3 linked regions of the Homo sapiens genome follow. The protein of the gene in region 1 interacts with the protein of each later gene in a biochemical or structural test. Each region holds a gene or a part of one and is shown on either strand. Other genes may lie near its edges.

Region 1 (3,743 bases):
TTCTGCCCACCGAGAAAAAAAAATAATACCTTTGTGACGCCCCCACAAAAAAGGAGGAGGGTAAGTGTTTGTGTGTATTTGTCGGGGAGACAAGAGCTAAGCAAACAGAAGGATCAGCTAAAGTCAATATCGTTACCTGTGGTATTGAGCCTGTAAAAACTGAAACTCTTCCTTAATCCGATCACAGGATTCGGAAATTGTAAATTTAAAGGGTTGAGCAGGCTGATGCGGTGCCTGAAGAACAACAATAAAATATTTAATTAGCCCACATCACAGGCGAAGCAGGGAGACGGAGAAAACCTACTATGCGGCGTTAGCGGGGGGTGAGGGTCATCGCGCACGCAAGCAAAGAGAGATTAAAACTCTCCTCCCGCAACCCTCCTCGCGCCCAACAGCCCAGGCAGAGGCTGGTTTCGAGGTGGTCCTGGGGCCCCGCATACTCCCGCCCGCAGGCCCCCGCGCCCCGGACCCCGAGGGTTCGAGTCCCGTCTCCCCTCCCCGGCCAAAGACAGGCACCCAGGGACCCGCGCGCCGCGCCCACTCCCTCCTCACCCGGAATCGAAACTGGCCCGTCGGGGGGACCCGCGCCATGGCGTCGGGCTGCGGTCAGGCCGGGGGAGGAGGGAGGCGGCCGCCACCCTCTCGGCTCGTTCGTTCGCCCGCTCGCCCCGGCGGCCCGCGGCGCGAGGGGCCGGCGCCCCGCACTTCCAAACCGCAGCCAGCCCAGCAGCGCCGCTGCCGAGGGCGCCCTCCCCGCCCGGGCGCGGAGTCGCGCCTCCTTCATCGCTCGCCACCCCCCCTCGAGGAGTCGCGGCGCGGGGACCGCAAACGGCTCGGCGCGGCTTCCAGGGGCTTCAAAGACAACAATAAGAAAATGGCTACAACTCAATTGCCTCTCCGCACCCCCTCCGAGGGCCACCGCGCCGGGGGGTGGGGGTGATGGCGGGCGGGCTGCTCCCGGCGCGGGGCGCCGATTTCGGGCGGCTCTCCACGCCCCTCCGGCCAAAAGACACAACTCGGTGCGCAGGGGGCGACGCGGGGAATCCCCCAGCACCCGGCGAGCCCGCGCCCCGCCGCCCGCACTCACTGGGTGTCTGGTCTGCGGGTACATCTTGCTCAGGTCGCGAATCATCCAAGCCGATTTAGTTGGCTGCGCTCGGCAGAGGCGCGCGGCTCATTGGCTTTAATGACCCCGAAGAGGAGGCGGCCGCGGCAGCGGAGGCGGCCGGCTCGGTCTGAGGGGCGGCTCGGGCGGTCCCGGCCCCCGCCGGGTCTCGCGTGACACGGGCGGCAGGAACGCGCGGCGGCGGCTGGGTGCCGGCTGCCGGGCCGCTCCGCATTCCCCGCGGGCGTCACTGGCCCGCCGCGGGCATTGTCCGGCGCGCGTCTCCCAAGGCAACGCTCCGACGTTCGCTCCGCCGAGGCGCACCCGCCGAGCCCGGCGCCGCGGCCGCCGCTCACCCGGCCGGGAAAGTGCGGGCTCCGCGCCCCACCGCCCGCCGGCAGCTCCTCTCGCTCGCTCTGCGTCCCACTCCAAACTTTTTTTATTTGTCTTTTAATTGGTTGTTATTCCTCCGAATGAATGATCTTTCTTCTTCCCTAAAAGCAAACACAAACTCCTTTGGTTCGGAAGAGGTCTCGGCGGTGCTTTTTGGTTTCTCTGGAGATTTTTTTCACTTCACAGCAACGATCTTTTAAAAGGCACCTTTTAGCTTCTTTTACCACATCTCATTTCCTTATTTCTCTTCCTTCCTGTTTTCTTGTCTTTTTTTTAACCCCAAATTGAAGGGGATTATAAAAATAAAAGAGTGAAACGCTTGCGGCTTTTTTTTTTAATTCTCTCTCCTTTCAAACTCTGCGAACACCACCTCAAAATAATATACAAGTGTGTGAGAAAGGGGGAAGAAAGCAGCCAACAACCCAAACACCCGCTCAGCACAGCTCTAACAACACGCTCTGTGTAGGTGACTTCTTTGACCAAATTTAGCAGCAGCTAATCATTAACATTCTGATACATATTCACAATCTTCCGCGGGGCGGCCGCGCAGCATCCCGGGAGATGTAGTCCGCCCCGGGCGACCCTGCCTGAGAATACGGCCAGATTGACTACAATCACCGGCCCGCCATGCGAGCGCTCTGGCGAGCTCTCCAAGCGCCCCGCCCACCCCCGTTGCGGTAGGCGTCTCCACCAACCAATCAGAGGTGGCTGAACATTAATCGCCGTTCTGTGTTAGTGCCCATCATTTCACTGCTGACAAATGGCAAGCCAGCGGGGAGGAGCCAACCCAGCTGAAACCCACGTGGGGGCCGGGCGTCGCCTGTAGCTCCGACCAATTAACGAAGAGGAATGAGGTTGGCGGAGGCGGGGCGGAGATGGCCCGCCCAAGGCGGAGCTTCGCCTTGGCTGACGTTCCTTAGCGCGAGCGTTCGAACCGGGAAAACATTTGTTCAGCTGTCAATCAAAGTAACGTGGGGCTGGGAGAATCGGCGGCTGCTGCTGTTGCTGCTGCCCTGGCTGCATCTTCAGAATTAGGTGTTGGTGGTGGTGGTGGTGGTGGCGGCAAAATAAAGAGGGTGGAGGGAGCGGTGAGCCTGGGGGCTGGTCAAAAGATCTTCTTCCGAGTCTCGTCCTCCCGCCCACCCGTCTCCCAACCCAGACACCTTCGGCCCCTCGCTCCGCAGCCGCGCCAGGAATGCGGACTAATTAGGGTCCAATGTCTCCTTAAAGAGACAAGCTCGGCCTTGTGTAACGCGCCGAAACCCCTGTTGAGACAAGAGGGGGAGGATCACGCTGATCTTACTTCGTTCGGTTCACATCAATTTTACGCGCCGCTGGAGCCGGCATAATTTTCCGTGTGAACGCGACTCGGTCCCCGTTCTTGTTTAGAGCCAGAAATGGAGTCGCGAGATGCTGGCTGGGGCCGGGGCCGCGGGGTGGGCGGGGAGCTCGTCCCTCCAAGCCCCGCGGGGGCTGTGATTGCCATTTAGTTCCGAAACAGGCCTCCCTCCCTCCACCCCCGGAGGCACTCGGAGAGAAAGCGCATCCCGACGCTCCATCGGGGGTCGCGGGGGGCAGTAACCGTGGGGGCTCCGGGTGGGGCTGAAGATCCGGGAATCAGAGACGCTGGACCTCCAAAGAAACTTTGCCGACTGGGCCACGTGAACCCCGAACACGGTCGGTACTGAACAGAGCAGGCCGACGGGGCACGGGTAGAAAACGCCCCTGCGCGCCCTGGGACGTTCCCTCCCCCAGATCAGTACCAAGACTGCGCCTCTTTTTCCCGCTCTTTGGAGAAGCAAGTCAAGTTTATCCCCGTTAAAAACAGAGCAGGGTGCCACGCGGGCCCGAGAGATGGCGGAAAGGTGGGGGTGGCCCCAGGGGCAGATGCTGGAGGAGGAGAGAAAGGGGCAGCCATGGCTGAGGAGGGGCACCCCTAGGGAGGGGCCTGGGAAATGGGGGCGGCCTCCGTCAGTGCGCCTTTCCATCCTTAGTCCGTGTCCAGCTGGAGGCAGCGCCCCAGTTCAAGGGGAGGCTGCTGAGGCTCGCAGTCTTTTCTAGCGAGCGGCTAATCTTGGGGACAGGGAAAAAATTCGGAAAAAGTCAAGAAGAGTGTTGGCTAATGTAACAGGCTGGGTTTTAGACGTTTATTTCTATGCGTGCTTGCCTACTGTAACTTGACCTGTTGGTTGAGATGGTGCCGCCGGTTCGGCGTTAGTGGAAAACTATTCTTCTTAATGATATC
Region 2 (3,743 bases), on another chromosome or scaffold:
CCACAGCCAGGGCTCGGTGGCATGAGGTCTGACCTGCTGGAGGCTTCTCCGCCCCTGGCTGGGGTTTTTATTTGGCGTCGTAGCAGTGAGGGTGAGCACGCTGAGGTCTGGCTCGCGACTGGTTTTTTGGTTTGTTTGATTTTGTGGGTTTTTTTTTTTTTTGGTTTGTTTTTGGTTTTTTTTTGTTTGTTTTTCACCTCTGGTTCCTTTGGGGCAGCTGGTTTCTGTTGTGATTATTTTTGGTTTTCTCTTTTGTTGGTTAGTTTCTTTCCTTTTTTTTTTTTTTTTTGGTTGGTTGTTTTTTTGGTCTTTCCTCCCTTGTCACTCCTGCTCTGAGGACCCTCTGCGTCCCCACCACTGGCCTCCTCGCCCTCTTCCCAGGCAAGGGACCAAGGCAGGGACCAGAGGAATGGGAGGGGAGGCATGGCTGGCCCTCACTCAGGTTTGGACCCTGCCTCGGGCCCCCCTGGACCTCCAGGGGTCTGTGCTGCCGTCTCGCTGCAAGTGGAGGAGGAGGAGGATGAGGATGAAGAGGATGAGGAGGAGAGGCCAGGAGACTTGCTGGAGATGGAGGCTGCCACAGCCGCAGCCGCTGCTGAGACCAGGCCCACACCAGGCGGGGTGCTGAGCAGGGGCAGCCCAGCATGATTCAAGAAGAGCGGCGAGGTCACCAGGCCAGGGCTCCCCGGGGCTGCACCGGCTGCCCCCAGCACCAGATTCCCGCTGCCATCAAGGCTGGTAAGGGGCAGGGTTCCACCAGAGGCCAGGGCTGGCGGGGAGAGAGAGAGGCTGGGCTAAGGGCATGCCGGGCCAGGGGAGACCTTTGCCTTCCAGCATCCTGCCCAGAGTGCCCCCCATCTCCCCATCGGTCCCACTGACCCCCATCAGCACCCCTCACACCTTCCCCAAAGGTGAGATGGGTATGAAGAGGCAAGCAATGCAGTGAGCAGGGGCAGGATGGCATGGCTGGAGCAGCAATGGCAGGGCTCGAGGCCCCAGAGGATAGGGCTGGTGACGATGGGTGTGACATGAGGCAGCACGCACCTTGGATAGTGGCCAAAGGGTTGTTGCTCATGAGGGCTGGACTCAGCCCGGAGCTCAACCCCACCATTGTGCTTCTGCAAGAGGCAAAGCAGAGGCATTAGCAGGGGCAGGGACCTGCCAACATAACTGGGGTGCCGCTCCCCACCCTAGAAGCAGCAGCGACCCTGCTTCTCCCCACAGCTTCCCACGTGCACCCACTTACCCCGTGCTGGGGTTCAGGCCTGACAAGCCGATAGCCGAGTGGCTGCCTTGAGGGCTGGGGTTTGTGCTGTTGGTGGTGGCCGGGGGTGGGGGAGTGACAGAGGGGATGGAATTGAGGGGGGGCGCAGCCCCGCCCCCGCCCCCACCCCCTCCAGCTGTCCGGCTGGGGTGGAGCGTCCCCACAGCTGAGGATAAGGTAGTAACTGCCAGAGAGAGACAGAAAGATGGGGTCTTCAGCTTCCACTCGTCCCCCACTGAGGAACCTGGGGTCAGCTCCTACTTGTCCTCCCGCCCAGCTCACGCAGCATCTCCTCAGTCAGAACAGCCTTAGACCTCCCTGCCCTCTCTTCCCAGAGTCATTTCCCTGTGCCTCTGCCATGGTGACCCCTGTCATAACAATGGAAGTCAGAGCAGGTGCTTCCTGCTGAGCCCTGGCACTCTACACTCCCTGCCCTGAACCACTTTTTTACCGACTAGAAACGGGGGTGCCCAGGAGACAAAGCCCTATGGCTCCCTCTAGGGGCTGGGGAGGGGCGAAGGGTGCCAGGCACACTGCCACATCTGAGGGATGGGCAACCTGGCAGGGGCTGAGGGCCCAGACTCAGCCAGACTGCTGGGGTAGAAACTCCTGGCTCTGTCTCATCCCAGTGGTGCCCTTGGGTGAGTGCCTTAACCTCTCTGACCTTCAGATCCCTTGTCTGGAAAATGGGGATAATAATAGACCCTATCTCATAAAATGAGTTTGAGAATTAAGTCAGTCAATGCAGTTTAGAAAGAGTTTAGTACAGTGCCAGGCAAGCACTTACTACTTTATAAATCTCCACTTACTATTTTCTAGCCTGGGGAGGGGCAACGTGTTGTTTTATGTGTATATATATTATGTGTATATATATTATGCATATATATATTATGTGTGTGTGTATATATATATATATATATATATTTTTTTTTTTTTTTTTTTTGAGATGGAATCTCACTCTGTCACCAGGCTAGAGTGCAGTGGTGTGATCTCAGTTCACTGCAACCTCCTCCTCCCGGATTCAAGTGATTCTCCTGCCTCAGCCTCCCGAGTAGCTGGGATTACAGACACACGCCACCACGCCCAGCTAATTTTTGTATTTTTAGTAGAGACAGGGCTTACCATGTTGGCCAGGCTGGTCTCGAACTCCTGACCTCAGGTGATCCACATGCCTTGGCCTCCCAAAGAGCAGGGATTATAGGCATAAGCCACCACACCCAGCGAATTTTATATTATTATTATATATATGGTGTATAACCATACATATAAACCTACCGTGTCCCAGGAAGAGGGAGGGGAACTCTGGATACAAGACTATGTATGTATGCATGTATGTGTGTATATGTACATACACATACACTCTTACATACATGTATTTATATCTTTTTATGTTTTACACATTCATAATAATTTAATAAAAACTGAGGCTTAGAAGGATAAAATAAGTGCTTGAATTCACACAGCTTAAAAATGACAGAGGCCAGGCACAAAACTCAAGTGCCTCACCTTTTACCAGGCCCATGCTTTTCTCATATGAAATCGTGAAGCAGATTAAAGCTGAGTTGCTCCTGCAGAGGAGGGGTGAGTCCTACCCTCTTCCCACTGTCTCTCCCATTCCCCCACCCACACTCCCCAGGCCCAGTCTTGAGGCCCATGGACACCCAGAGCCACTTGGGAACCTCAGGCTCCAGCCTGTGCCACATCCTCCCAGTCCCCCCTCACCATTTTCTGCCCTCCCTGACCTGTTGTGCTCAGACTGCTGGAAGCTTGGGACAACGGTAAGGTCCCCGCGCCCCCTTGGGGTGTGACCTGAGGAGAGAAGAAAGGAGGTGTGGTTAGCCACTGTCTGCCAGCAGCCCCCGTGATGCTCCCTGTAGGACCCCACTCCTCCGTCCCAGGATGGGGGCAGGGGGCTTTGGCACAATGCTGCATTTGTATTATTCCACATGCTTTCTTCACACTTGCCCTAGCTGATCCTGAGCCACAAGCAGGAAGGGCTAATTCTCCATTGAGAACACTCCCCACCTCTCTTCTGACACCGCCCCATCTGGCTAGTCTTTGCAGGGTTGTGTCCTGTCTGAAGTGACTGCACCGGAAGAGTGGCTGCTCCACATGCTCCTGATATTGTTGGTTCTGCAAAACTAAAACTCTTTTCCCTGGACAAGCAAACACCACCCTTTTACCAGTGGGGTTGGCAAGCAATGCAGGAGAGACTGTTCAAAGTGACCCAGGCAGGGAAAGAGCAGATCTAAAGTGCGAGGCTAAATGGATGCATATCTTTGCATCGGGGTGTTGAGATGTCATATTACTTGATTTTCTGGGACCATCAGCTTCCTTCTTGGCCACCCCACCTCCAGTCTCACCTTTGCATCAGCCCCAGAAACCTCACTAAATGTGACTCTCTCCTTCCCCAGCTCAAAACCACTCCTTACCTCCTCACTGCCCATGGTTCAAGTTCCAGCTCTTCACTGTAAAACTT
Region 3 (3,743 bases), on another chromosome or scaffold:
AATTCTCTTCCTGAGCACACACTCCTGTGCCAAGGCAGCAGCTTCAAGACCCAGGAAGCCGAGGGACAAGAACCCAGTGAGCCAGGGTTGCAGAACTGCGGAACGGCCCAACCTCACCTGGACCCGCTGACGTCTCCAACCTGGATTTCTCTCTGCAAAGACCGATCAGCCTCTTTACCCCCAGGTGGCAACCCAATCTCAGTATAAAGAGGTCTGGAAAAATGAGAAAAATCTGGAACTAATGAATTCTCTCCCAAACTCGTTCTATTGACTCACTGACTATCGGTGGGAATTAACCAGACACCAACTCCAAAGGCCTCCTCACCGCCCAGAGAAAGAACCAGATTGGCCTGAGACTTGAACTTTGACATTCCGTATTCGACTAAAGTTTGCAAACCCATAGGAAATCATCTAAGGCCAAATCGTTAGCAACCACCAAAAGCAAAGGAGTAAAGAGGAATGAAGTTCAAATAAGGGACTTTGTTTTGGGGTTTGGTTTTGATTTCTTCTTAATATCCACATAAAGTGCAAGTAAACTGACATGGAAACTTTCGATGGAACCCTGGAGCCCTGATCCCCTGAAGAAGTAGCTAATATGGGGGACAGGAAGGTTTAGAGTTCTTAAAATCTAGTAACTCTAGAAACCAAATCCATTTTCCAGGCAATTTTGCCAGGATGCTTTAAAAAAGACACTTCATTGATATTAAGCTAGGATGTCACATTTAGGAAGACAAGAGAGAAAAATAATAATAATGTTTGTCCTTAAAACTCCACAACGGGTTTTACAGTAAGCACAGGAATTAAATTATGGTAAAAGGGAGCTATTTTTACTAAAACAGGGTAGACCAATTTATCAAAAATGCCATTCGGCTGTGTTCATTACATCCAGGAATCTAATTTACACAATAGACACTTTGGAGTAATCTATTTTAGTCAATAAATACTTAAACTCCTTTAAGTTTTAATCTTATCGGAAATACATATTTCGCATAGTCTTCTTCCTAGTTAAGCGAGAAATTTCAGGAAATTTCATAACGACTATGACTCGGCTTTATCGTTCTTAGTAGGCAAGAGCAGAAAACAAGCATATACAATTAAAGTTGTCAGATTCCATTTAAATATGTTTTAATCCAACCCGCTTCGTTTGATACAAGCCTGCATCTCGAGCTTTGCTCCCAAAGGTATTGCGGTAGGTCACTGTCACCAGTCCTCCAGGTTAGGAAAGTTCAGCCAAGTTTATCTTCACGCACACCTTAGCAGTTGGGAGTAGCTGCAGTTCCCCAGGGGCCCTGAGGAACCCTCCTATCCCCTCCCAGAGCACCAGGCCGCCCTAGAGCATTCTAAGCCGCGGGACCCGGGCACCCCCCGACATCCCCGGTTCCCTCCGCGCCTGCAACCTCGGGACTTCTGGCCCACACGCCGCTCACCTTCAACCTGGCTCCGGCTACGCACAACATCCACCTGGCAGAGTCCCGGGGCTGTCCCGGCGCCGCGGGCGCCGAGCTGGCACGTGCGGGGCGGACCCTAAGGGTGCGCCGCTCCTCCGGGCGGGGGGTGGCAGGCAGGCACTCGCCCCTTGGGCACGGCGGCGACTCGGGCGCGGGCCGGGGAGCCCCGGCACGGTCCCCCCGCGGCGCCGGGGACTCCGCGCGCGGACCACCGCCCGGCATGCCACGGTCCCAACGGGCCCCCGGGGCTCTGCTTTCGAGAACCCGGCCCGAGAAGGCATCTCCGAGCGCACCCGCCGCGCGCTCCATGGCGGGCCCTGCAGAGAGGGCAGAAGCCCCGAGGGGACGCAAGGAAGGGACCCGGCGCCGCAGGTCACCGGGGGCCGCCGGAGCCCCCAGGCGCGCGGCGATCGCGGCTCGGACCGGCGGCGGGGAGGCAGCGTACACTGCCCGGGCACCCGGGGGAACAGCTTGGGGCCTGCCTAGGGGAAAGTTGCAGCCTCCTCCTCCCGCGCCCGCACCCGGCGGTCCGGGACACCGGGACCCAGCGACACTGCGCGCGGGGCACCCCCGCCGCCCCTCGCCAAGTTTCCCCAAAGAGCCCCCGCGGGGGTCCGCCACGGAGGAACAGGTCCGCGTCACCGACACAGGCACACAAAAGAGCGCGGCGGCCGCGAGGTGCGCGGGTGGCCCCGGGGCGCTCCCCGGGACGTAAACAAACCCGGGGGTCCGCGCCGGGAGCCACACGCGGGGTGCCGGAGCGGCGGCGCGGCCCGGGCCGGTGACAGCCGGGGGCGGCGGCCGGGGCCGGCCGGGGGTAGCGAGCGCGGGCGCCTGCCCGGCCACCCGCCCGCCTGGCCGGAGCCGGGCCGCGCCGCCGCCGCCGCCGCCGGTGGCCGCTCTGACCCTCCCCCGAGCCGGCGGCACCACAGCGCCACCAGCCCCAGCTCCGCCGCGCCGGCGGCAGTGGCGGCGGCTCCTCCTGGAGAGGCAGGCGCTTCACCCCCCGCAGCAACTCCCCACAAACTTTCCCCGGGAATACGGCGGGCCGGGGGCGCGGGGCGAGCGGGCGGGCGGGCGCCACCGCCGGGCCGCGGCCCCCTCCCGGCGCCCGCCGCCGCCCGCCCCCCGCCGCCCGCTCCCCGCTCCCCGCTCGCGCGCGCACCCCGCGGGCCGCCGGGGCCGCCCCCTCCCCGGTCCCGCGGCGGCAACGGCGGCGGCGGCGCTGGCGGCGGCGGCGGCGCGGGGCCCGGGGGGGCGCCCGGGGTGGGGGCAGACACCGGGGGCAGTGGTGGCGGCGGCGGCTCCCGGCGCCATCTTGGGCTGATCGATGAATTGAACAAAGAGGATCAATTTCCGATCAAGCGAGTGATCAATGGGGGCCGGGGAGCGGGAGGGACTCGGCCCCGACTCGGCCCCGCGGTGCCCGGCACCCCCCTCCTCCCCGCCGCCGCGGGCCCCCCGGCGGCTGGGCCAGCCCGGGGCCCCCGGCGGAGGCCGCGACCGCCCGCAGCCCCCACCCCCGGGCGCGAGGCCGAGCGCGGAGGAGCCTGACCTGCAGCTGCTGTAAATCAAAGCGCTTCCAATATTGAAACATCGATCCCACATTGGCCGCCATCTTGAGACATATTGAGACGGAGTGAGCGGCTGATAGAGAGGGGGCTGGAGTTCAGGAGCCGCCAGGAGGCAGCAGGCGGGCGGCGCCAAAACCCGGCCTGGAGCCGGCCGCCGCCGCCGCCACCGAGGACGCGGACTCCTCCTCACGGCACCGCCGCAGCCATGGCGAGCCCGAGCCGGAGCCGGAGTCGCAGCCCCAGGGCGCGGCGGCCGCGGCCCGGCCTCGCGCGCGCGGCCCCGGCCCCTGCTCCCCCAACCCCCCCACCGCCGCCCTCCCCCTCCCCTCCGCGGGCCGACCGGCGACCCCCGCCCCTCGGGACAACCCCCCCCAAAGTCCGCGGTCGCGCCGGCCACAGACCCGGCCCCGAGGGGGCGCTGGAGGGCAGCGCCCGGGGTCCCCCGGCACCGCGCACCTGGGGAGGGCTGCGGGGGTGGGGGGGGTCTCCCGCTGGGATCGCGATCGCCCGCGGTGGCCGAGCGCAGCGCCTTCAAGACTCCGGTTGGGGGGAACGTCGGAGCGCCCCTGTAGTGGTTAGTGTACAGAGCGCGGAGACGCCGCTACCACCTGCCCGGGACCCCCCACACCCGACCCCTGCGTGGCCCAGGCCCCCCGCAGCAGCGTGCGTGGGAGGCGCCCCGACGGTGGACGGCAACACTCTGATCCCTCTGCGCCCAGCG

The links.
Region 2: the proteins of TLE4 (region 1) and POU2F2 form a complex in vitro, tested with the Homo sapiens proteins (one study listed by BioGRID).
Region 3: the proteins of TLE4 (region 1) and CUX1 form a complex in vitro, tested with the Homo sapiens proteins (one study listed by BioGRID).

The regions. Positions count from the first base shown.
Region 1 is NC_000009.12:79,570,180-79,573,922, reverse strand, and holds the start of TLE4 (transducin-like enhancer protein 4), read right to left. Parts: upstream 1,959-3,743; 5' UTR 1,133-1,958; coding exon 1,088-1,132; intron 747-1,087; exon of another isoform or gene 592-746; coding exon of another isoform or gene 553-591; intron 235-552; coding exon 137-234; intron 1-136. UniProt on the Homo sapiens protein: Transcriptional corepressor that binds to a number of transcription factors. Inhibits the transcriptional activation mediated by PAX5, and by CTNNB1 and TCF family members in Wnt signaling.
Region 2 is NC_000019.10:42,090,823-42,094,565, forward strand, and holds part of POU2F2 (POU domain, class 2, transcription factor 2), read right to left. Parts: intron 3,074-3,743; coding exon 3,007-3,073; intron 1,449-3,006; coding exon 1,247-1,448; coding exon of another isoform or gene 1,243-1,246; exon of another isoform or gene 1,119-1,242; coding exon 1,045-1,118; coding exon of another isoform or gene 770-1,044; coding exon 435-769; 3' UTR 1-434. UniProt on the Homo sapiens protein: Transcription factor that specifically binds to the octamer motif (5'-ATTTGCAT-3'). Regulates IL6 expression in B cells with POU2AF1. Regulates transcription in a number of tissues in addition to activating immunoglobulin gene expression.
Region 3 is NC_000007.14:101,815,354-101,819,096, reverse strand, and holds the start of CUX1 (Homeobox protein cut-like 1), read right to left. Parts: upstream 1,472-3,743; 5' UTR 1,458-1,471; coding exon 1,428-1,457; intron 1-1,427. UniProt on the Homo sapiens protein: May be involved in intra-Golgi retrograde transport.